Linked DNA regions of Homo sapiens: all the other regions are linked to region 2. Evidence: fine-mapped expression QTL. A gene starts in region 2. Each other region holds a variant in brackets. All regions are shown on one strand. Distances are between the middles of the regions.

Region 1 (8,179 bases), 24 kb before region 2:
TTCTTTTTAAGAGATTACATTCCAGGTGAAGTGTGAAAAAAGAGAGATTACAGTTTAAGTAAACAAAAGGAAAATAAAGAATTCAGAGGGTAAATGAGATATGTGGGGGACTTTTAAAACACAATTGCTTGACATGCACAGAAAATTGGCTGTAAGGATATATATCACAATATTGCTTAAAGCCAAATTTCAGACCTCTAAATGACTAAGAACAATGGATTAATGAAGATGACCATAAACAATGAAAAACTGCAATCATGAAAATGCTATACAATATTTTATTAATAGTATAAAATATTAGCTCTCAACAAACATGAATAAATTAATGAATCTTCCTCATTTGTTTTAATTTTGGATTATGTATTTTTAAATGTTCATTAAAATATATTACAAAATCAGCCGGGCGCTGTGGCTCACACCTGTAATCCCAGCACTTTGGGAGGCCAAGGTGGGTGGATCATGAGGTCAGGGGTTCAAGACCAGCCTGGCCAAGATGGTGAAACCCCGTCTCTACTAATAATACAAAAATTAGCTGGACACGGTGGCGGGCACCTGTAATTCCAGCTACTCAGGAGGCTGAGGCAGGAGAATCGCTTGAATCTGGGAGGCGGAGACTGCAGTGAGCTGAGATCGTGCCACTGCACTCTAGCCTGGGCGAGAGAGCAAGACTCCGTCTCTCTCTATATATATACATTACAAAATTAGTTTCCGCAAAAATTATATATTCAACACTGTATTTCAGCTGTGAAAGTTAATATTCAGAATTCTTGTCTATCTTCTTTGCTGGCCTAAAACTTCAAATATCTGAAGAGTATAACATAGCAGGATGTTTCTTACTGAAATATTTTACTTCGGATTTCAATGCACAGGTTACTCAAATATGATGAAGGAAAATTCTATAAATTTGACTGGCTTTAAAAAAAAAAGAAGAAGAAGAATGGTTCTGTGTCTGCTTTATTTTAGATACAACAAACAAAATCTTTCCTTAAACTTTCTTTCAGGAGCTCACCTGGGAAATAAAATATATTCTTTCGGGTCAAAGAATTCACTCCTGAAATATTTTTTCTTTCTTTGGCAAACTGCCTCCATTATCATGAAGAATTTGTATTGGCTCTATTTTTGTTATCTAATAGATTGCTTCTAATTATGAGAATTTAATTCTCTGGATCTGACGTTGGAATCTCAGGGCTCAACTTTCTGCCTAAGCCTAAGCTTAAGCCAAGCCTAAGGCTACCTTGGCATATAAAATAATACAAACTGGACTGAACATCACCTCCAAGAAATACACCCACTTGACAGATGAGGTAGCAGATCAATTAGGATACACATAGGACTTGAACCTGGCCTTCCAGTTACATAATATTCTAGTTCTCTAAACCAATCTGTTAGGTTTAGACCAATAGCTATATAGTGAGTAGCTAGTTACAAAACCCCAATTACATGTCTCAAGTTCAATAACTGAATACTACTTTTAACTCTGGTATTTTACTATGAGGTAATATAGAACACAATAACAGAAAATATTTAATATATTCTCTCTTACATGCTTATATTCCTATACTATGCACACCAATTTGCCAAAAAACACTAATAAATGCTTACTGAATTAATGAATTATCTCCTATATATAAAGGTTTGTGGTAGGGGGTAGATATAAAAGATGAAGAAAATAGTCCCTTAGTCTTTAGAAGAACATAATAATTTTTTAAATTTAAAATATAAAAAGAAGAAAAAAGAAAATAATCCCTTATCCTTGATCTCCTGGAATTTACATTCTAGCCTGGAACAAAAATGTAATTAAAGGTGATTCAGATGAGTGGCAGAATATAAAAATGCACAAACTGCCCCAAACAGTAGGAAAGAGTAGTTCTGCTAAGGGAACAACATGGTCAGAGAAGGATTCAGAACAGATTCCAACTTAGGCTTGGAGAACATTTAGTTTCATGAACTGATCCCTAAAACCCCGAAATATGTTAAGCTAAACTTTTTACACAATTAGTTGTATTCCAAAGTATTTATAGTAAGATGCGCCACAGATGTGTGTATATAGTTCTTCTCTTCAGAAGCATAGCACGTTCGTAAGGGCTTGAGTGTTTAGGAATGCTTGCAAAGGGCTCTAAGAAGGAACACAAGAGTTGGAAATAATTATTGTAAGAATGCTTTGGGGGACTTTTCAAAGTCCTTATTTGAGAAGGACATGTGCTGTGACCAGAAGCAGATTTATTCCATCATTCCGTTCTATTACAATCTCTCTAACCAGCCAATCAGAAGAAATCCTATTACCATTTAGCCATACTGAGATCTGCTTTAATGGTTAAAAATGGAATAAACCAAGAAAATACTAAGTAAAACACGTTTCTTACAACTTACAAAGATGAGTCCAGCCTCACAGTAAAAATATGTGACAAAGACTCAAGGATAAAACCAACTCAAAAAACAAAAAAAAAAGAAGAAGAATTGGTGTGAGGAAAATGACAAGGTCAAGAAATTAAAGAAGCTAATTTATTTATAACCTCCCCTCAAAGGGAGGCATAAGTGACTATGCTTCATATACAAAGCAACTTTTTAAAAATTTGTGTGCTTGTTTTACAGAAAGATTCCTTATAATTTTTTTATTCTTTTTTTAAAGAAGCAAAGGCAGGCAGACTATAAGACTAATCAGTTTGGTAAGTGAGCCAAAAGCAAGGGGGGAAAAAACAGATCCAAAAGCACTGGCTGATCTCATTAGCTTTGCTTAAGAAACTTTATAGATGTGACTTCACTCCTGGATTACACGTCTATATTTAGTTTATACCTAATATGGATAAAGTCTTGAACCAACAGTCATTTCCTCTCTCCACAAAAAGAAACTTCCTTGCCTTTTTTTTTTTTTTCTACCAACCTCTGAAGGGGGAGGAAGGGAGAAAGGGAGAGGGCAGAAAGAAAAGAACTCACAGAAAAATAATTAACAAATTAGTATATGATTTTTGTTAAACTTGAACCATTTAGACATTTCTCAATTGGAAAACAATCCTAAAATCAAAATATGTGAGGCCAAGCACAATGGCTCATGCCTGTAATGGGAGGCCAAAGTGGGAGGATAACTTGAGTCCAGGAGTTCAAGACCATCTTAGGCAACACAGTGAGACCTCATCTCCACAAAAAAATTAATTTAAAAAAAATTAGCTGGGCATGGTGGCACTGCAAGTCCCAGCTACTCAGGGAGCTAAAGGAGGAGGATCACTTGAGCCCAGGAGGTCAAGGTGGCAGTGACCTGTGATGACACCACTGCACTCCATCCTGGGCAACAGTGAAACTCTGCCTTAAAAAAAAAAAAGACATTCAAGTCAGGTTCCTTAACAAGTTTATAAATAAACCCTCTAAAGTGCTTTATAAAATACTAATTAACCAGGCCCCCAAAATGCAACGAGGTGAGGTAATGGAAATTTTAGTTGCCTTTCAAATTTTACCAAGAGAACTGAAAGCAACCAAAGTCATCTAATGAACCATCTAGGCTCACTAGTTGTTAGTATGTTTTAGAAATATCCTTAAATATTCTCAGAATTTTTTTTTCAGGGTGACTGAAAACAGAACATAAGAAATTCTGTTAGGAAAGCATTCAAGTTTCAAATAAATAGAGAAAAATAACATAAACAAAGTTATTGATTCAGGTTCTGAAATCCCAAAGACGTTAGTACAAATCACAGTACTGCTACTTACTGGCCCTGCAACCATACCCAAACAATGATCTCTCTAATTCTCATGTGTTAAACAGTATTGATAGCACCTATTTCAAAGTTTATATGAGGATTAAATTAGCTAACACATGCAAACGGCTGGCACACTGTGCCTGGCCCATAGTAAGCACCCAATGCTATCTATTACCTCATGACCATTATTCTGGCTTTAGTAGGGAAACAAAAACTTACTGATCATTTTTTATATATCTGTTTATTCTGTATAGTGATAAATTAAGTAGCTTCAGAAAACTTATAACATTATTATAAAATAAAGATTTTAAAGTCACTTCATGATTCTTACAT[TATG/G]TTTTTTTGTTTGTTTTCTTTTGTTTTGAGACAGAGTCTCACTCTGCCACCCAGGCTGGAGTGGAGTGGTGCAATCAGAGTGGCTCACTACAGCCTCAATCTCCTGCTTCAGCCCCACTAGTAGCTGAGACCACAGGCATGTGCCACCATGCCCCGCTATTTTTAATTATCATTAAATAAATGATAGAGATTATATCTACCAATTACAGACATGCTAAAGTTTTCTTTCTTTTTCTTTTTTTTTTTTTTTTTGGTGAGGCAGAGTCTCACTCTGTCGCCCAGGCTGGAGTGCAGTGGCACAATCTCGGCTCACTGCAACCTCCACCTCCTGGGTTCAAGTGATTCTTCTGCCTTAGCCTCCCGAGTAGCTGGGACTACAGGCACATGCCACCATGCCTCCTAATTTTTGTATTATGAGTAGAGATGGGGTTTCACCATCTTGGCCAGGCTGGTCTCGAACTCCTGACTGACCGCCTCAGCCTCCCAAAGTACAGGGATTACAGGCGTGAGCCACCGCACCCGGCCGACATGTTAATGTTTTAAGCTTTATCATCTCATTGTGGTATAAGATGAAAAAGTCTAAAAACAATAATCTTAGATAGAGTCTAGAAAAATTAGAAGACTTCATTTTTACTCCTTAAAAATTACTAAATATAAAACCTGTAGATCTACACTATCTCAACTTCTTCCAGACAAATTAAATAAAAAGAGCTTAATCTCTTCTCTTTAAGAGAAATGTAGATGTGTTAAAAATATAAGCACGTCTACATTTCCTTTAAAGAAAGCATTAGATAAAGGCTAGTTAATATATGACCTGTTCAGTTGTAAAGGTGAATACCACAAAAATCAAGAAATAGTGAAATTTGGTAGCACAGGAAGCCAAAATCCATAATTCAAAAGTACTTTTACCCAGCACTTTGGGACGCCACCACAAGGGGATTACTTGAGTTCAGGAATTTGGGACCAGCCTGGGCAACATGGCAAGATCCCCATATCTTAAAAAAATGAAAATTTTGGCTGGGCGTGGTGGCTCATACCTGTAATCCCAACACTTTGGGAGGCCAAGGAGGGCGGATCACCTCATGTCAGGAGTCCGAGATCAGCCTGACCAACATGGAGAAATCCCGTCTCTACTAAAAATACAAAAATTAGCCAAGCGTGGTGGCAAGCGCCTGTAATCCCAGCTACCCGGGAGGCTGAGGCAGAACTGCTTGAACCTGGGAGGCAGAGGTTGTAGTTAGCCGAGATCATGCCACTGCACTCCAGCCTGGGCGACAGAGCGGAACTCCATGCCAAAAAAAATATATATATATATAATTTTAATTAAAAATTTTTAATTAAGAGTATTTGTACAGAACCAATAAGATCCTATGTCATAGATTATTCCTCTTTACTTTTGCACTTTCACATTAACAAAAAAGAGAGAGAGGAAAAAAAGAAAAACATTCTCACTACTAATGGACTCTCAAGCTTTAGCTACAAGTCCAGCAAGAGCTGCTGAGGCCGATGGACTAAGATGGCAGAGTCCAATCTGACTGTCCTTTAGTTACCTAGTAAGTGTCAACAGGATCAGGGTTCACTGAAGTTAATTCAAGAGCAAACTCAAGCTTAACCTTGAACTTTTTTTGTACTAACCCTGCTCTTTTGATAAAGAATGAAAAGTTCCCACCTGGTGGTAGTGGCAGTCTGGCAGATGCTTCTAATCCTGAAGGTTGAAACCACATATGGTATATTGAATATAATAAACTAACCATAGGCCAAGCCAACATGGTCTTAATTCTGCATTCCTAAAGGCAAAATAGTAAGCAAACAAGGCTTACTATGAGTTAGACTCTAAGGGCTTTTCTTATATTAACTCTTATAATCTTTACAAAAGCCCAAGATTACCCCAGTGGGGACACCAAGGCAACTAGTGAAGGGTAGAACTAGGATTCAAACACAGGCCACATGGCTCGGGAGTCCACACTCTTAGCCACTACATCAAGCTTGTCCAACCTGAGGTCCGTGGGCCACATGTGGCCCAGGACCACTTTGAATGAAGCCCAACACAAATCCATAAACTTTCTTAAAACATTATAAGGTTTTTTTGGTTTTTCTTTTCTTTTTCTTTTTTTTTTTTTTTTTTTTTTTTAGCTCATCAGCTATTGTTAGTGTATTTTTTGTGTGGCCCAAGGTAATTCTTCTTCCAGTGTGGCCCAGGGAAGCCAAAAGACTGGACACTGCATACTCTAACAGCATAATACTAAAGATCCAGTCTTCCATTATGATGACTCAATTGCCTACTTGAAATATTAATTCAAATGGTCTTCAATTCCAAAAGAAACTATTTCAGCACCTAGACAGAAATACTGGCTAGGCGTGGTGGCTCACACCTATAATCCCAGCACTTCAGGAGGGCAAGGTGGGCGGATCACTTCACGCCAGGAGTTCAAGACTAGCCTGGCCAACATAGCGAAACTATGTCTCTACTAAAAATACAAAAAAATTAGCCAGTTGCAGTGGCACATGTCTGTAGTCCCAGCTACTAGGGAAGCTGAGGCACAAGAATCACTTGAGCCCAGGAGACGGAGGTTGCAGTGAGCTGAGATTGTGCCACTGCACTCCAGCCTGGGTGACAGAGTGAGACCCCGTCTCAAAAAAAAAAAAAAAAAAAAAAAAAAAAAAAAAAAAAAAAAAAAAAAACCGTCTGGGCAACATAGCAAGACCTGATATCTAAAAAAAAGAAAAAAGGTGCAGTGGCTCATGCCTATATTCCTAGCACTTTGGGAGGCCAAGATAGGTGGATCATTTGAGGTCAGGATTTCAAAATCAGCCTCGCCAACATGGTGAAACCCTGTCTCTATTAAAAATATAGGCCGGGCGTGGTGCCTCACACCTGTAATCCCAGCACTTTGGGAGGCCAAGGTGGGTGGAACAGGAGGTCAAGAGATTGAGACCATCCTGGCCAACATGGTGTAACCCTGTCTCCACTAAAAATACAAAAATTAGCTGGGCGTGGTGGCACGTCTATAGTCCCAACTACTCAGGAAGCTGAGTCAGGAGAATAGCTGGAACTCGGGAGGTGGAGGCTGCTGCAGTGAGCTGAGATCGCGCCACTGCACTCCATCCTGGCAACAGAGCGAGACTCCATCTCAAAAGAAAAAAAACTAAAATTAAAATTTAAACAAATTTTAAAAATTAGCCGGGCATGATGGTGGGCGCCTGTAATCCCAGCTAGTTGGGAGGCTGAGGCAGGAGAATTGCTTGAACCCACAAGGTGGAGGTTGCAGTAAGCCAAGATGGCGTCACTGCTCTCCAGCCTAGGTCACAGAGCGAGACTCTGTCTCAAAAAAAAAAAAAAGAAAGAAAGAAAGAAGAAAAAGAAGGAAAGAAAAATACAAATGATACTTCAAGTAAACAATCATCCCTGGCTCTGATTTTGGGATCTATGATCTCAAATATTTCAAAAGATATAAAGAACTTTTTACATGCAATACGGAGGCAACGGTATAATCTAACACAGGGGTTCCTGCTGAGTCATCAGGACAATAGCTGCTCTCAACACTCCTAATCTTAATGGCTATCAAGCCACATGCTCAGGGTCAAAACACAGTTGCAGACTCTCCCTTAAAACTTTTTTACTTTGCAAGGAAAAACAAGTAAATCTGTTTATTTCAATCTAAAATATGAACTGAGCCCAGTCATTTGCATCACCCTCTCGACCTATTTCTCTGGCTTCTTGTTAGGCATTTGCTTTTTCCCAATCATGTGATCTTTTAGTTCTTCTTTTCCTCCCAACCTCCTCTGAAATTAAGCCTGTGCACGGAAAAAAATAAAAGCTTCTATATATTCCTTCAGCAAACATTTTATTGAGTAACAATCAAATGAGTTAATATTTCATAGATGTAGTCAACACAGTGCCTGGCACATAGAAAGCACTCCATAAATGTATATATTATTTCAATTAAATATGAAATGCTTTTCCATATATACTTCTTCTATCTCATGCATTTAAGAAATCCAACAGAAAACAGTCAATGGGAACAGTATCTATTCTAAATATAGGAAAACCAGATCTTCCTAGAAGTGAAAAGGCCTCCCAGGCAGTGAGTTACAATAACTCTAGTGGAAAATATTATCCCATCTAAGATAATTGTGTATAGTACGCCTTCCTT
Region 2 (8,179 bases):
TCTGCACCCTCTCTACTTTCTTTTTTTTTTTTTTAATTTTTATTTTTTGAGATGGAGTCTTGCTCTGTCACCCAGGCTGGGGTGCAGTGGCACTATCTCGGCTCACTGCAACCACCGCCTCCCAGGTTCAAGCAATTCTCCTGCCTCAGTCTCCCGAGTAGCTGGGATTACAGCCATGCACCACTATGCGTGGCTAATTTTTGTATTTTTAGTAGAAATGCGGTTTCGCCATGTTGCCCAGGCTGGTCTCAACATCAAGTGATCCACCCCCCTCCGCCTCCCAAAAGGCTGGGATTACAGGAGTGTGCCACCACACCTGGTCCACTGCTTTCAAAATAACTATATTTACAAGGGTATTTCCCCCATTTGCATTTCCCACACGTAGGTTTTGAGAAGAGATCAAGAATGCCCTTTACCACATTTTACCTGTCCTTTTTTCCCCTTTCAAACAAACTGGTCTAGGGGCCAAGCACAGAGGCTCAAGCCTGTAATCCCAGCACTTTGGGAGGCCAAGGCAGGCAGATCACTTAAGGTCAGGAGTTTGAGACCAGCCTGGCCAACATGGTAAAACCCAGTCTCTTCTAAAATACAAAAATCAGCCAGGCGTAGTGGTGCATGCGCTCCTCGGAAGGCAAAGGCAGAAGAATCACTTCAACCTGGGAGGCAGAGGGTGCAGTGAGCCGAGATCGCGCCACTGCACTCCAGCAGCCAGGGTGACAGAGCGAGACACCATCTCATTAAAAAAAAAAAAAAAAAAAAAAACAAAAAACCTGATCTGTATCAGTGCAAAGTTTGCCTATGTTGAATCACTGGGTAGCAGAAAACATTTCTTATTTCACAAATGAGACAAACAAGGCTTAAAGAGTGAAAACAAACTGCCTAGGGTCACCCAACCAAGGAGTAAAGAACTGTGACTTGAACCCTGATTCTCTGCCACCAAGCCCAATGAGAAAGGCTTACAACTAGTGGTAGGAAGGATGATTTTCAGTGGTTCTCAACACAAATATGAAAAACAGAAAGGGGATGCAAGTGACTCAAGTTTGGAAAACTGCACACGCCCCTCTGCTATTCTAACTGAAAGATGAAATTAATAGTAAGCAGGGCATTAATCACTGATCTCTTCCTAATTCAGATACTTAATTTTTCTTGTCTTCTTTGATTAGCTCCTCCAATAGAATAATAGAATACTGAATAGAGCCATAACTGATAATAGCTTTATCTTTTTTTTTTTTTTTTTGAGACGAAGTCTCACTCTGTCGCCCAGGCTGGAGTGCAGTGACTTGATCTTGGCTCACTCCAACCTTTGCCTCCCCGGTTCAAGCGATTCTCATGCCTCAGCCTCCCGAATAGCTGGGCCCACCACCATGCCTGGCTAATTTTTCTATTTTTAGTAGAGACAGGGTTTCACCATGTTGGCCAGGCTGGTCTCGAACTCCTGGCCTCAAGTGATCTCCCCATCTCGGCATCCCAAAATGCTACAGGTGTGAGTCACCTCACCCGGCCCGATAGTAGCTTATTCTAAGTTTAATACTGTTCTAAAGTTTCACCGTTAAGTATCATGTTTTACAGATTATTCATGGATGCACTTTTTTTGAGTTTATGGAAATTCCTTCCTATTCCTCACTCAGTAAAAATTTTTTTTAACTCATCTCTGGCCCACTTGTTTCCCTTCTCCATGCTGTTTTCCACCCACCACCCTTCCTTTCTTTCTTTTTTTTTTTTTTTTTTGAGATGGAGTCTTACTCTGTTGCCCAGGCTGGAGTACAGTGGCGCAATCTCCGCACACCACAACCTCTGCCTCCCGGGTTCAAGCAATTCTCCTGCCTCAGCCTCCCGAGTAGCTGGGACTACAGGCACGCGCCACCACGCCCAGCTAATTTTTGTATTTTTAGTAGAGATGGGGTTTCACCATGTTGGCCAGGATGGTCTCGATCTCCTGACCTCGTGATCTGCCCACCTCAGCCTCCCAAAGTGCTGGGATTACAGGCGTGAGCCACCGCGCCCGGCCTCCTTCCTTTCTTGTATTTCAGGTTCCTTCCTACATTCTACGCATCTCAAAGTACTATATCTGCCACTCAAAGTAACCGAAACGCTTTGATATTTTGGGGGTTCTATACCTGTCTGCTGTTTCAGTTCCCTGGACCAAAAAAAAAAAAAAAAAAAAAATCGAAAATTGACAATTGAAAGAAAATCCTAAGGCAAACACTGTTCCAGTCATTACTGAAGACTGCAGAGGTAAATGCAGATTATTTCTTCTCTCCATCTCTTTTGTTTGAGACAGGGTCTTGCTCTGTCGCCCAGGCTGGAATGCAGTGGTGCGACGTGGCTCACTGCAGCCTCGACCTCCCGGGCTCAAGCAGTTCTCCCACCGCAGCCTCCAGAGTAGTACAGGCGCGTAACATCGCTCCCAGCTAATTTTTGAATTTTTTTGTAGAGACAGGGTTTCGCCATCTTGTTCAGGCTGGACTCAAGTAATCCTCCCACCTCGGCCTCCGAAAGTGCTGCGATTACAGGCATGAGCCACCGCGCCCAGCCCTTCTCTATCTCTTAAACACATCCTGAAATGTCCTTTCTTTAAAGTAAAAACTCGGGGAAAAAAAAGAACCCAATAGTTCTAGATGACCATTTACTTTCCGGTATGTTGCCTAGCTCTGAATGAGCCTGGCTTTTTAAGTGGCTGGAAGAAGCTCAAAGTGTTTTTTTTAAGTTTTGAGGGAAGGAGCTGGATCCAGATGTTTATAACTTCGACTCTCTCCTTTGCTAAAATAAAAAGTATTAAAGAGAAAAGCAAAGGAAGAGGGGTAGTATGTGTAAGCAAATAAATTCCACACATGAAAGCTGAAGACACAAGGGAAAACCAACCCTTTAAAGCCCAAGCAAGTTAAGAATTCTCTCCCTCAATTTCTTTCAAAACAAAAGGGCACACACAATCCTTCCCGAAGCAGCAACGCCGGGGGGAGAAGCCAAAATGTTGCATCATACAGAACACTCCGCGCTTGAGAAACGAGAAAGCCAGTAAATGCCCAAGACAGAAAAACACAAGTTGGGAATCTCGGTCTTTTCCGAAGGTCCAAGAGCACCTGCTCTTTGGTAAATTTGTTTAAGATTGCATCGAAAATTAAAGTTTCCGTTTCAGACCAGTGGGGAGCAAATGCTTTTTCAAAAACGCGTTCAAAGAAGTTCGTTTGAAAGCTCATCGGGCGGCGGGCCGCAGTTCGGGCTCCGGGCGGCGGACCGGAGCGCTGGGGAGCGGGTGGGGCCGGGCCCCGGCGCCCGGGCGGGGGGTGGTGACAGGACCCGCGCGCGCCCGGCGCTGGGGCCCCGGGGCAGGCAAGTCCCGCCCGTGGGCTCTTCCCGACCCACCCGGGCGCGGGACGCTGGTCTGGCGTCCGCCGATGCCTACGCGCTGGAGACGGTGGCCGCCGCCCGGGTCCCCAACCCGGACCCCTCGACGGGCCCTCGGAGGCGGGAAGGCGCGGGCGGCCCCCAGACAATGGGCCGGGGGCGCGGGTGCCCGCAGCGGGACGGGTGCTGGCGCCGAGCGGGGGCGCCTCAGGAGAGCCCCGGGACGCCGCTCCCCGCAGCCGGGAGGGAGCCGGGGGATCTGCCGGGCGGGACCGCGAGGCGAGCGCTCACCTTGACGAAGAGCTCGATGAGGGGCTCTTTGTCCTCCTCCTTCAGCCCATTCAGCGGCATCGACAACGCCATGGCCGGCTCGGCTGCGCTCCGCGAACGGCGAGGGCTGCTGCTGCTGCTGCTGCTTCTGCTCCGGGACTGCTCCGGCTGCCGGTTCCCGCCGTGCTGCTCGCTGGACTGTCCGGCGTCGAGCTGGCCACGGCTTCAGCTCCTCAGCACCGCCCCACGCCCCCCGCGCCACTCTGAGCCAGCCGCAGCCCGAGCCGCTTCAAACGGCTGGGAGGGGCGCCGGGGGCGGGGCCTCGGGCTGTAGGCAGGGCCAAGGCGCGGCGCCTCGGGACTCTCCGGGGAAAATAAGGCGGCAGGAGCACGGGGGCGTGGCCTCGAGCGGGGAAGGCGGAGGGACCGCTCCGGAGCCGAAGAAAGGACCTCTGCGGCGCCCCACAGCTGGTAGGGGGCGTGGCCTTGGTGGGCGGTACAAAGCTCAGGCTCTGGCGGGCGGGACCCGGGTACGCCTCTCTAGGGGACTGGTGCGGGGGGGAAAGGAGGGGAGGAATTCCCCAGGGGCCCGAGCCTGACACTGCCTCCCGCCGCAGCGCCTGCGCGTCCTCCGCAGCTGCTGCTGTTGCTGTGCCAGGTGACCTCATGCCTCGGCCGCCCTGGGGAAGCTAGGAGGCGCCTCCTACCCACTCCCCCGCTGCAGCACCCCAGGACTCATCGCCCTTTCCCGCAGCGGCTACCTCCCCAAGTCCCTCTATTACGCGGAGTTGCCTTTTCCAAGACAACTTACTGGAAAGTTTTCATCGCCTGGGGAACACCTTTTTCTTCTGCCTCTGACTTCGTTTTTCCCTTTGACGCTCCTGATCGTTTCGATCTTGGCAGCCAGCATATTCACAAATATATATATATATATATATATTTTTTTTTTTTTTTTTTTTGAGACGGAGTCTGGCTCTATCGCCTAGGCTGGAGTGCAGTGGCGCGATCTCGGCTCACTGCAAACTCTGCCCCGGGTTCACGCCATTCTCCTGCCTCAGCCTCCCAAGTAGCTGGGACTACAGGCACCCGCCACCGCGCCCGGCTAATTTTTGTATTTTTAGTAGAGACGGGGTTTCACCGTGTTAGTCAGGATGGTCTCGATCTCCTGACCTCGTGATCCGCCCGCCTCGGCCTCCCAAAGTGCTGGGATTACAGGCGTGAGCCACCGCGCCGGGCGCATATTCACAAATATTTATGAAACCTTACTGTGTTTCAGGCTCTGAGCTAGCCCTTGGAGAGTAACAACTCCCAAAGCTCAAGATCTTGAACTGCAATCTCAGTGCCTGCAGGCCACTAAGGACTTCCAAGTCGTTGTCCATCTTGTTCCCCACTGCCCACACCCATTTCTTCCCCCCGGCTCACCTGTCAAATTTGAGTGTGCATCAGAATCACCTAGGTGCTACACGCAGCCCCGCTTTTTGTGTTTCCCAGATCCTCTGGGAAAAAGAGAAATCCACATCTTAGCAAGCACCAGGACAATTCTGAAGTAGGTGGTCCGCAAACCAGTTAAACTGCCCTGGGATTTAAGCCCCCGAGGGCAAGAGCTGTGCTTGCCTTGAGATTGTAGGCACCTGGTCCTAGTTTGCTGCTGTTGAGTGCCTGGGGCAAGTTTCACCTCCTCTGGAAACAATTACTTGTGCCCTTTTCTGACTTTCCATAATACTTGACTCACAGCTACTCCTCCCAACTTCCCAGGTTGGGATAAATAGTGAGTTCCAGGAGGCCCAGACATGGGAGGTTTGTCTCCATATCCTCGGTGCCTAGCACATACCAGAATGTTTGAACAAATTGTACGTAGGCATGAAAATACAGTGAAACTTGCAATTTCTTCCTCTGCCAGCCCAAAGTAAGTTGCTCAAATTTTCTCACAGAGGCTCTGTGAAAGAGCCAGTGTATCCCAGTGGTCAGGAACACGTGCTCTGTAGTCTGACTGTTTAAGTTCAAATCTGACAAGGCAGTGTCCTTAAAACCCCTAAGCCTCAGTTTCATTATCTAGAAGTGGGTGGGGCTAATTACTGATTCTTGCCTTACCATATGTGCTGCTCCGTCAGTATGGCTGTTAACTGCATTGAGACTTATTCTGTCCCTACCACCCCTGCAGGCTAGAATGTGGCATCATATTCTACTCTCTCTATGCCCGGCTAGTTCGTTGAAAATAAATAAATAAATTCCAGGAGGCTCCCCTTAGATGGGGGCTTGAACCATGAAAATCCTGAAGTGACTGACTAGACTCTGGACTGAACCGTGTTAATTTTTCATAGAATCATGAACTGAAGCAAAGTTTCCTTCCAGAATCCACCCTCTCTGCCCTACCAAAAAGGAACCAAATGGTGAATCAGTTCAAAGCAGATCTAAGCCAAAAAACAATTCAGCAGAAACTCAATGTACCTGAGAATTGATCAAATTGAGGCCGGGCACAGTGGCTCATGCCTGTAATCCCAACACGTTGGGAGACCGAGGCGAGTGGATCACCTGAGGTCAGGAGTTCGAGACCAGCCTGGCCAGCATGGCGAAACCCCATCTTTACTAAAAATACAAAAATTAGCCGGGTGTGGTGGCACATGCCTGTAATCCTAGCTACTCGGGAGGCTGAGGCAGGAGAATCGCTTGAACCGGGGAGGCAAAGGTGGCTGTGAGCCGAGATCACGCCACTGTACTCCAGCCTGGGCGACAGAGCGAAATCCATCTCAAAAAAAAAGAATTTGAGTTAGAGGCAGCAAATATTCCCGGTGGTGACTTGCCCTTCACAGGCTCCAACTGGCCTCACAGCACCAGGGTATGGAAGGAGGAACAGACCAGGGCCCTTTAGGCTTCATTGACTAAACAGAGATCTTAGCTAGGAGGAAGCCAGGGGCATTCTCCACAGAGCCCTGAGGTGGTGATGATCTCCTGGGCTCCTCCTACCCAACAGGAAGCCCCCCAGGAAGAGGCTCAGACCCAGAGCCTGTGCTTAGACGTAGTCTCAGTCACACCTACAGTTTCCCAAGTTCCGCCCTCATATGGCTCCCATGGATGGGCAGTCAGTCCTGGGAGTGGGTGAAAGGGAAAGAGGATGTTTATGCAGGGGAGGCCCCCTAACCACATAGCAGTCAAGTCTCCTCTTCGAATTTTGAATTGCATGCCTGCTTTACATTCTTTACTCAGGCTTGTTTTTATAGCACACAGAAATCTTTAAGATGGGTGGAGACATGTTGTCTCCTCCCACACACACCCCTCTGACCTCATCTCCTACCATTCTCCCCTGTGCTCTCCACCCCAGCTTCACTGGCCTCCTTTCTAGTCCTTGGATATGCGAAGCACACTGTGGCCTCAGGGCCTTTGCATTTGCTCTTCCCCCTCTCTGGAACATTCTTCCCCCAGAATTTCTGCAACTCCCACTCCCTTACTTCCTTTGGCTCTTTGCTCAAATGTCATCTTCTCAGAGCGCTCTCCCCAAATACCACCCTATGCAACGTTGCAAGTTGCTATCTTTCACTCCACCCTCCACTTTATCTCTCTTCATAACACTTACAACCCTCTGATACATATCTACCTATTTATCTGCTTATTGTCTGTCTTCTCCCACTAGAACATAAATGCCATAAGGGCAGGGATTTTTTGTTTGGTTTTGTTTATGGCTATATTCCTGGCTCAGAGGACAGCTCATGGTACACAATAAAAATTTATGGAGTGGGCCGGGCGCAGTGGCTCACGCCTATAATCCCAGGATTTTGGGAGGCCAAGGCGGATGGATCACCTGAGGTCGGGAGTTCGAGACCAGCCTGACCAACATGGAGAAACCCCGTCTCCACTAAAAATACAAAAAATTAGCCAGGCATGGTGGTGCATGCCTGCAATCCCAGCTACTTGGGAGGCTGAGGCAGGAGAATCGCTTGAACCTGGGAGGCAGAGGTTGCAGTAAGCCGAGATTGCGCCATTGCACTCCAGCCTGGACAACAAGAGCGAAACTCTGTCTCAAAAAAAAAAAAAAATAGCTTATGGAGTGAGTGACTGTACCATGTTTATCCTATGGTTTCATGTACCCCTGACATGACATTTGGATTGTCACGCTCTTCCAGTCTGGGAAGCCAGGTGGTTTGTGTTTATGACTGCCCCTACACAGGGGGTCAGGTTTTCCTCCAGTAAGCCTCCCTTGATGACACTTTCCTCCTCCCACTTCTAACTCTGTGGTGCTGCTCGCTGACTGTCTCAGCCCAAAGTTCTGCAATTTCAGCAGCAGAATGAGCTGCTATGCACATGGACTCTGGGGCCAGACTGCCTGGGTTCCAATCCTGCTTCTGTTATTTACTAACTCAGGATACTTACTTAACCTCTCTGTGCTTCATTTTCTCATCAGTAAAAATGGATCTAAATTAGTACCATTTTCTCGTCTGTAAACATGGATCTAAAATTAGTACCTATTAATATTTAATAGGATCATTGATAAATTAGTCTATGTTAAGAGCTTGGATTGTAAGTGCTCTGTAGACACTAGCTGTTGGTATTATTCCCATCTGTCCATATT
Region 3 (8,179 bases), 30 kb after region 2:
AGCCACTCAGGAGATTGAGGCGGAAAGATTCCTTGAGCCCAGGAGCTATGATTGCACCACTGCATTCCATCCTGGTGACAGAGCCCAACCCTGTCTCTATTTTAAAAAAAGTTCCGGCCAGGCACGGTGGCTCACGCCTGTAATCCCAGCACTTTAGGAAGTCGAGGTAGGCAGATCACTTGAGGTGAGGAGTTCAAGACCAGCCTGGCCAACATGCTGAAACCCCATCTCTGCTAAAAATACAAAAAGTAGCCAGGTGTGGTGGCGCACACCTGTAATCTCAGCTACTTGGGAGGCTGAGGCATGAGAATCGCTTGAACCTGGGAAGCGGAGGTTACAGTGAGCTGAGATCATGCCACTGCACTCCAGCCTGGGCAACAGAGTGAAACTCCGTCTCAAGAAGAAAAAAAAAAATTCCCTGAACAAATAGGGAAACTGACGCCTTGGGGAGGGGCAGGGAGCTGCTTGGGATCACTAAAAATTGGGGATCGCTTTTTTGTGAGGGGCACATAGCTGCTATTGTATTATTGTTTTTTGATTGTTCCCAATTTACCAGGGAGGAACTGAGCCAAGAAGTTAAGTAACTTAGTTGAGATCACATGACTAGGAAATGGTAGAGCCAAGATTGAACCCCAGCCAGCCTGGCTAACCAAACAGTAGCATGAGGCTGATCATTAACTGTCTTTTACTGAATATCCACAACATACTTGCAAAATACATCTTCTTCCTCACACCACCCGATGAAGGAGGTACCATTAAGGTCCGCATTTCACAGATGAAGGAACTGAGCCCCAGGGAGGTTGTGTGATTTACCCAGGGTCTCACTTCTAGGCAGTGGCAGAGTTGAGGTTTCTCGACACAGGGTTGTCCTGCTGCCCAAGACCTCTTAATTCCCAGCTGGCTTTCCCTGGCCAGGCTAGAGCCAGTGCCATCCCCCATCCATCCCATCCCTTCTAGGGTGTACGTGCAGAGAATGCAGAAGTCATTGAACTACGGTCTGGACAAATGGGCATTATGAGCAGGGTCCTTCTGCCAAGCAGCCACAGCCAAGTGGATGCTGTGCTAGACTAGCCACCTCCCCCCTCCCTCCAGCTTGACCCTAAAGTCCAGGATTCTTTGGAAAGATTAGACTCCACTAGGCTGAGAACACCGCGGTGCCAACAGCAAGGGCTTCAGCTCTACTGTACCCTCCACACACATTATGTGAAGGTGAAATTTCACAAGTACCCCAAGAAGAAGGTTCTAGTACTATCCTCATTTTTCAAGAGGCAGGACAGTAGAGGGGTAAGAGCATTGACTTGGAGCAGAGGCTGCCTGGGTTCCATCCCCTACCCGGCCACTAGGTCTGTCCAAGGCTCTGTCCTAGTCATGGCCTTGCTTACTTAACCTCTCTGGACCTCAGTCTCTTTATCACTGGGAAGAGGACGAGACTGGTACCTACACCTCATAGGGAGGATAAAAGAACTAGAAGTATTAGGATATGGGCACAGCACATAATGAGCACCATGTGTTTGCCATTTTATGGAAACTGAAGCTCAAGAAAGTTATATGACTTGGCCTACGTCACATGAGTACCACATGGAAGAGCCAGGACTTGAACTCAAGTCTGTCCAACTCCAAAGCAGCCCTCTCCTCACATACTCAGGGCATTGAGCTCCTTGATGGATGAGTAGAATTTTTAGATTGAAGGAAGGTGGACAATTCAGGTTGTTCACAGAGATGGGAATGGGCTGCATAGCAACTAGTAGTAGTTCCAGGGTGAGTGCCACATCCCCACAGCTCTAACATCCAGTCTGATGGATATTCAAGTCACTGGACACAGGATTCCGAGCGCCTACTCTGTGCCAGGTCAGGTACTAGGTATTGAGAAAGGAGAAAGAAAGCACACACAGTTCATGAAGCTCAACAATCCAGTGGGGGAGATGGATGGGCAAGTGAATCACTATGATACAGTGAAATAATGGCTCTATAGTGCTGAAGACAGGTGCAAATAGTAAATTCTCCCTGGGAAGCAGTTGAGGAAGGCTCCATGGAGGAACTGGCATTTGAACTGGACCTTTAAGAACTGAGCAAGGCCTGGCACGGTGGCTCACGCCTGTAATCCTAGCGCTTTGGGAGGCCGAGGCGAGTGGATCACCTGAGTGATTCAAGTTTGAGACCACCCTCACCAGCATGGTGAAACCCCATCTCTACCAAAAATACAAAAATTAGCCGGGCATGGTGGTGCATGCCTGTAGTCCCAGCTACTTGGGAGGCTGAGGCAGGAAAATCACTTGAACCCGGGAAGCGGAGGTTGTAGTGAGCTGAGATTGCGCCACTGCACTCCAACCTGGGCGACAGAGCAAGACTCTGTCTCAAAAAAAAAAAAGCTGAGCAAGTTCAAAACAGGAAAAGTGAATCCACCCCAGACAGAGGGCCTAGCAGGAGCAAGTGCAGAGAATCACAAGGCACATGGGGCATTCAGGGGAGTGGAGAGTTCCATATGCCCCAGGCAGGGCCGATGAGACTGCAGAAGTGGTTCAAGGTCAGAGTAGGAGGGCCTTTCTGTTGGTCAGAACTCCTGGGTTGCGAGAGACAGAAAACGCAATTCCAAGAAGCTTAGGAAAAAAGAAAATCCGTTGACTCAAAAAACTGAACATTCACCTCCTTTGAGAATGAAAGTTAAAAAGAAAAAACAATAGAGTATATTAGTGTATTTGCTTCAGGTATAGCTCAAATAAATGCTTTCAAGACTTGGCCTCTCTCTCTTCTTCTCTGCTCCTCTCTGCTTCTCCTTGCATTGGCTTCACTCTGAAGCAGGCCCTTTCCAAATGGAGGCTCCAAGCCCAGGGCAAAGAAAGATTCATTTCTCCAGATATTTATTTATTTATTTATTTTGAAATGAAGTCTTGCTCTTGTCCCTCAGTCTGGAGTGCAATGGCGTGATCTCGGTTCACTGCAACCTCTGCCTCCCGGGTTCAAGCAATTCTCCTGCCTCAGCCTCCGGAGTATCTGGGATTACAGGTGCGTACCACCACGCCCAGGTAATTTTTTGTATTTTAAGTAGAGACAAGGTTTCACCATGTTGGCCAGGCTGGTCTCAAAGTCCTGACCTCAGGTGATCCATCCGCCTTGGCCTTCCAAAGTGCTGGGATTATATGCGTGAGCCACAGCGCCCGGCCCATTTCTCCAAACATTTATACACAGGTTCTGAACTTGAATTTCATTGGACTGGTTTAGGTCACGTGACTATGTCTAAACCAATTGCTGTATAGAGGTGGTGGGAGTGGAGGTGGAACAATCGGATTGATCAAGTTGGGGTCACATGTCTAATTCTAGGCCTGAGCTCCACTCGAAACATATGGACTGAGAGTGGGGGCCCAGGTGCTTCCCCAGAAATAGAGAGACTTGGAGCTCATATGGAAAAGGAATGGATGCTGAGTGGGCAAGATGACAGCCTGAACACTGAGGTCATGGTCTTTTAGGTAGTGAGGAGTCAGTGAGGGCTTTAATTTGAGGACAGAGCAGTTTGGACTCAACTTGGGCTTTGTGAGTGAAGAAGGGAGAGATGATGGAGACAGAGATGTTTGTAGATGAAAATCTCTTTGAGAGATCCTGGAGACCTGGGGTAGCAGGCATGGAGAGGAGGGGGAGAGGCAAAGGCTGCCTGGCTGGGATGCCCCAGTTGTTACTGGAAGGGCTGCTTCAAGGACCAAGACCACGTCACCCCCTGGCTACGGGCCTTCAGATGCCAGCAAGAGCGTGGGCTAAGGGCCCAGCCTCCCTGCCCCGCAATGCCCATGACTAACTCTTTCCCTCCATCTGCCCCCGCACTTACTCACCCCCACTGGGCCCCAGAGAATCTGATCTCTCATGGTCCCAGTTGTGAGGTGGTCACCTTGTCATAAGGTGCTGGTAGTGGTGGAGGCTGGGCACCTTCACCCCTCCCAGCCTTAACAACCGCTTTCTTAGTTTCTAACCTCCCACCCCATCCCCCTGGGGCCTGGAACATCACCCCGTGGGCTCCAGGCAGGCCAGCTCCTCTCCCTGGTGAATGGAGCCATTGTAAGATCAGCCTAAGAGCTGGCAGGCACTAGCCTGGCACACGTGGCTCTCCCAGAGTCCCTAAGTCCAGCCATTCTTGGTGCTGGGTGCTTGGGCCTGCTCAGAAATGAAAGAGGAGGACTGAGGGGGCTTGGACTGCTGTAGCAGGTTTCAGGACCTGCTGCAGCTAGGCCCCTGAATATACTATGCTCGGCCTCAGGTCTGAGGGAGGAGGCTGGGGGCCAAGGCTTGACCCTGGAACCTTCAAAACTTTGGAGCAGGAGGGACTTGCCAGTTGGGCCCTGATATATCGGGGGCTTTTACCAAACTGAAAGCTGTGATGTGATAGAAAATGCCAGAACTCTGTTCCTGGTGGTCCAGCCAACCCCACAGAACTCTGGAGGGAGAGGCAGGACACTGAGGCCATCCAGGAAAATTATGAGGTTTGGGAGTTGGTGGTAAGAAAGTGGGGAGTTTGGGACTTGCCATTTCACCACAGACTGCCTTCCAGAGCCTTCCAGACGGAGCCTGGGGTGATGGTGTCAAAATACTTAGCTACTGTTTATTGAAGACTTATTAAGTGGTTAAGCACTGTGCCCAGAACTTCACATACCTTATCTCATTTAGTTTTTATAACATCCATGTAAGGCAGGTATTATCATTATTCTCAGGGCTGTCATGTACTGTTGCCCAGATTGTTCACTGCACAAAGGTACCCAGCCATAGATGAGTATGTGAAGGCTAAAATCCACCCAGTGCTCTACTCACCCACTCTGCTCCTGTTGGGTCTGTGTCTACTATAAGAAGGTCCTCTTTTTCTTATGTTATAGCTGGGAAGTTAGGCTCTGAGAAGATGAAATTACTTGTCAAAATCTTCATAACAGGTAAGTGTAAGATCAGATCTGCTGACTCCAAAATCTCTCAATGAACCACTGTACCCTCTATCTTCAGGCTTATGCAC[T/C]CACACTCCTCTCTGCTCTTCTCTTTCCTCGGGACCCAACTGCTCACAGTAGGCAACGTGGCAGGAGGCAAAAGCCTGGGCCAGGAGATAGGAGACCTGGGTTGCAGGCCTGGCTCCACCTTAGCATTCACCTTTCCTCTTCACATCTTGGTCTCCTTATCTGTAAAGTGGGAATTTCAATTAGAGTTCTTTAGAAGCAAGAGAAACCAACTTGAGCTTACTGAAAAAAAAAAAAAAGGAAGGCAGTGGAAGAATCTGGGGCTGCCGGTAGAACGGAAGGAGGAGCTAAACTAGGCCTTGGATAGACCAGAAACCTCACTCCAGGGATCCAGCAATGGACGTTTGGGCTAGGTCCCTGTGGCATCCCCATGTCTATGTGAGCCACTGTGCCTGGGAGAGGGACTCATGCCCAGCTCATAGGGATTGCCTGAATCAAGTGGGCTCTGGGTGGGGAGGCTCTCTGCAGGCTGCAAAGTAGATGTGATTCAAGGGAACATCGTATATGGCTCTGTTCCTCCTGTCCCAGGAAAATGTGTGAGCAAGGCCAGCCTCTGGCCCTGGCTTGCCACTGACTGACTGCCCAAGGTTACGTGTCCTTGGGCAAGTCACTTCTTCTTCTGGTCCAGAGTTGTCTACAGAAGGTAGATGATTATCTGTAAGGCCAGTTTTTAGCTCACTAAGGTGTTAGCAACTGATTCCAGGGAATTTCAGACATTCCTGGGAGCAGTTGTTCAACCTAAAAGAATGAATCATGGATGGTGGAATTTTAGGCATCCATGAAGATGATGTTGGGTGGAGTTTTTGTGTGGTCACACCAAGTGGAAAAATGTCCACTGCACGTAGGAGACCAAGTGGGGAGAGGGGCAGCCTGGGCACGGTACCCCTACTTCGCACCTCCAGGACCTCTGCCATGAGAGGGCTACAGAGATCCCGCTCAGGGGCAAGAGGTTGGCCACATTTGAGAGCTGGGTCACTGGAAGGGCTCCAGGCAGAGGAAGAACAGCTGGCTGATGGGAGACATGGAGCCTCCTGACCACTCCTATCCCCATGCCTTTGTCAAACGGACACACATATTCATGGCAGCCGGCTGAGGCACTGTGCAAAAAGGACATCGGTTCTCCTGTCTGGGCCTCAGTTTCCACCTCTGTCAAATGGGGTAAGGTTGCTCTAACCTCATGGGGTCTTTCTAAAAATCAAATGGGACAAGACATCCGAAAGAAAACCAAGGAAACTTAGGATCTTGGTGCTGAATAAGGACTAGAATGTCAGTGTCATGGAGCAGGTCTTCTCTCTGTCTTCTGCACTACTGTATCCTCAGTGCAGCATGGAGCCAGCTGCATAGTAGGTGCTCAAAACATTATTTATTGAGGCCAGGCACAGTGGCTCACACCTGTATTCCCAGCACTTTGGGAGGCTGAGGCAGGCAGATCACTTGAGGTCAGGAGTTCGAGACCAGCCTGGCCAACATGGTGAAACCTGTCTCTACTAAAAAAAAATTACAAAAATTAGCCAGGTGCGGTGGCTCACGCCTGTAATCCCAGCACTTCGGGAGGCCTAGGTGGGTGGATCATGAGATCAGAAGTTCGAGAGCAGCCGGACCAACATGGTGAAACCCCATCTCTAATAAAAATACAAAAATTAGCTGGGCATGGTGGTGGGCGCCTGTAGTCCCAGCTACTCGGGAGGCTGAGGAAGAGAATTGCTTGAACCCAGGAGGTGGAGGTTGCAGTGAGCCAAGATCACGCCACTGCACTCCAGCCTGGGCGACAGAGCGAGACTCCGTCTCAAAAAAAAAAAAATTACAAAAATTAGCCGGGTGTGGTGGCGCTTGCCTGTAGTCCCAGCTACTTGGGAGGCTGAGGCAGGAGAATTGCTTGAACCTGGGAGGCGGAGGGGAGGTTGCAGTGAGCCAAAATCGTGCCACTGCAACTCCAGCCGGGATGACAGAGCAACAAGACTCCATCTCAAAAAAAAAAAAAAAAAGTATTGAGTATTAATAAGTAATATCTATAGGTTTTTATGTTCCAAGCATTGATCTGAATTTTTGTTTTGTTTTGTTTTGCTTTTTGAGATGGAGTCTCGCTCTGTCTCCCAGGCTGGAGTGCAGTGGCATGATCTTGGCTCATGGAACCTCTGCCTCCTGGGTTCAAGCGATTCTCCTGCCTCAACCTCCGGAGTAGCTGGAATTACAGGCATGTGCCACCATACCCGGCTACTTTTTGTATTTTTAGTAGAAAGGAGATTTCATCATGTTGGCCAGGCTGCTCTTGAACAGGTGATCTGCCTGCCTTGGCCTCCCAAAGTGCTGGGATTACAGGTGTGAGCCACTATGCCCGGCCTGATTTTGTTTTATAGAGACAGGGTCTCTCTCTGTCACCCAGGCCAGAGTGCCGTGACACAATCATAGCTCACTGCAGCCTTGAACTCCTGGGCTTAAGCGATTTTCCTGCTTCAGCCTCCCAAGTAGCTGGGACTATAGGTATGAGCCACCACAGCCAGTGGTCTGAATTTTCCAGGTATTCATTCTTTTAATCTTTACAATAATATTGGTACTGTTATTATCATCCCCGCTTTGGAGATAAAGAAAAAGAGATGACGTCACTTGCCCAAGGCCATGCACCTAGTAAGAGATAGAGCTGGATTTTGAACCTAGGTAGTCTGGTTCTAGGGTCCTCTCTTAAGCATAACTCTACCTGCTGAATGGCTGGCTAAGTGAGCAAATTGAATGAATACATGAATGCATGAACAAGGATATGAATACATGGAATTTGGGTTTCAGACTCCTCAAAGCTTTTACTGTAAGAACATGGGCCGAGGCCGGGCGCAGAGGCTCACGCCTGTAATCCCAACACTTTGGGAGGCAGAGGTGGGTGGATCACGAGGTCAGGAGTTTGAGACCAGCCTGGCCAATATAGTGAAACCCCATCTCTACTAAAAACACAAAAATTAGCCAGGTGTGGTGGCACATGCCTGTAGTCCCAGCTACTCAGGAGGCTGAGGCAGAAGAATCGCTTGAACCCGTGAGGTGGAGGTTGCAGTGAGCCAAGATCATGCCACTGCACTCCAGCCTAGGTGACAGAGTGAGAGTCTGTCTCAAAAAAAAAAAAAAAAAAAGATGGGGGGACTGGGCGTGGTGGCTCACACCTGTAATCCCAGCACTTTGGGAGGCTGAGGTGGGCGGATCACCTGAGGTCG

Evidence for each region. PIP is the estimated chance that this variant, and not a neighbour inherited with it, causes the effect.
Region 1: its variant is fine-mapped to the expression of CLIC4 in whole blood (INTERVAL, PIP 0.96).
Region 3: its variant is fine-mapped to the expression of CLIC4 in blood mononuclear cells (TOPMed, PIP above 0.99).

What each region holds. Positions count from the first base shown.
Region 1 is chr1:24,765,002-24,773,180 of GRCh38, reverse strand. The region is part of intron 1 of CLIC4 (chloride intracellular channel 4); the gene reads right to left. Among named protein-coding and RNA genes, the nearest start is that of CLIC4, 24 kb to the right of the region's middle. The variant TATG/G (reference allele first, on the strand shown) is at 4,023.
Region 2 is chr1:24,741,083-24,749,261 of GRCh38, reverse strand. CLIC4 (chloride intracellular channel 4) reads right to left here and starts at 3,815. Exons shown (of 6, transcript NM_013943.3): 1 at 3,637-3,815. The coding sequence starts at 3,708. RefSeq lists silencers at 3,244-3,403, 3,504-4,213 and enhancers at 3,295-3,900, 3,901-4,506, 5,719-6,324.
Region 3 is chr1:24,710,912-24,719,090 of GRCh38, reverse strand. No RefSeq gene overlaps it. Among named protein-coding and RNA genes, the nearest start is that of CLIC4, 30 kb to the left of the region's middle. RefSeq lists an enhancer at 3,193-4,392. The variant T/C (reference allele first, on the strand shown) is at 4,985.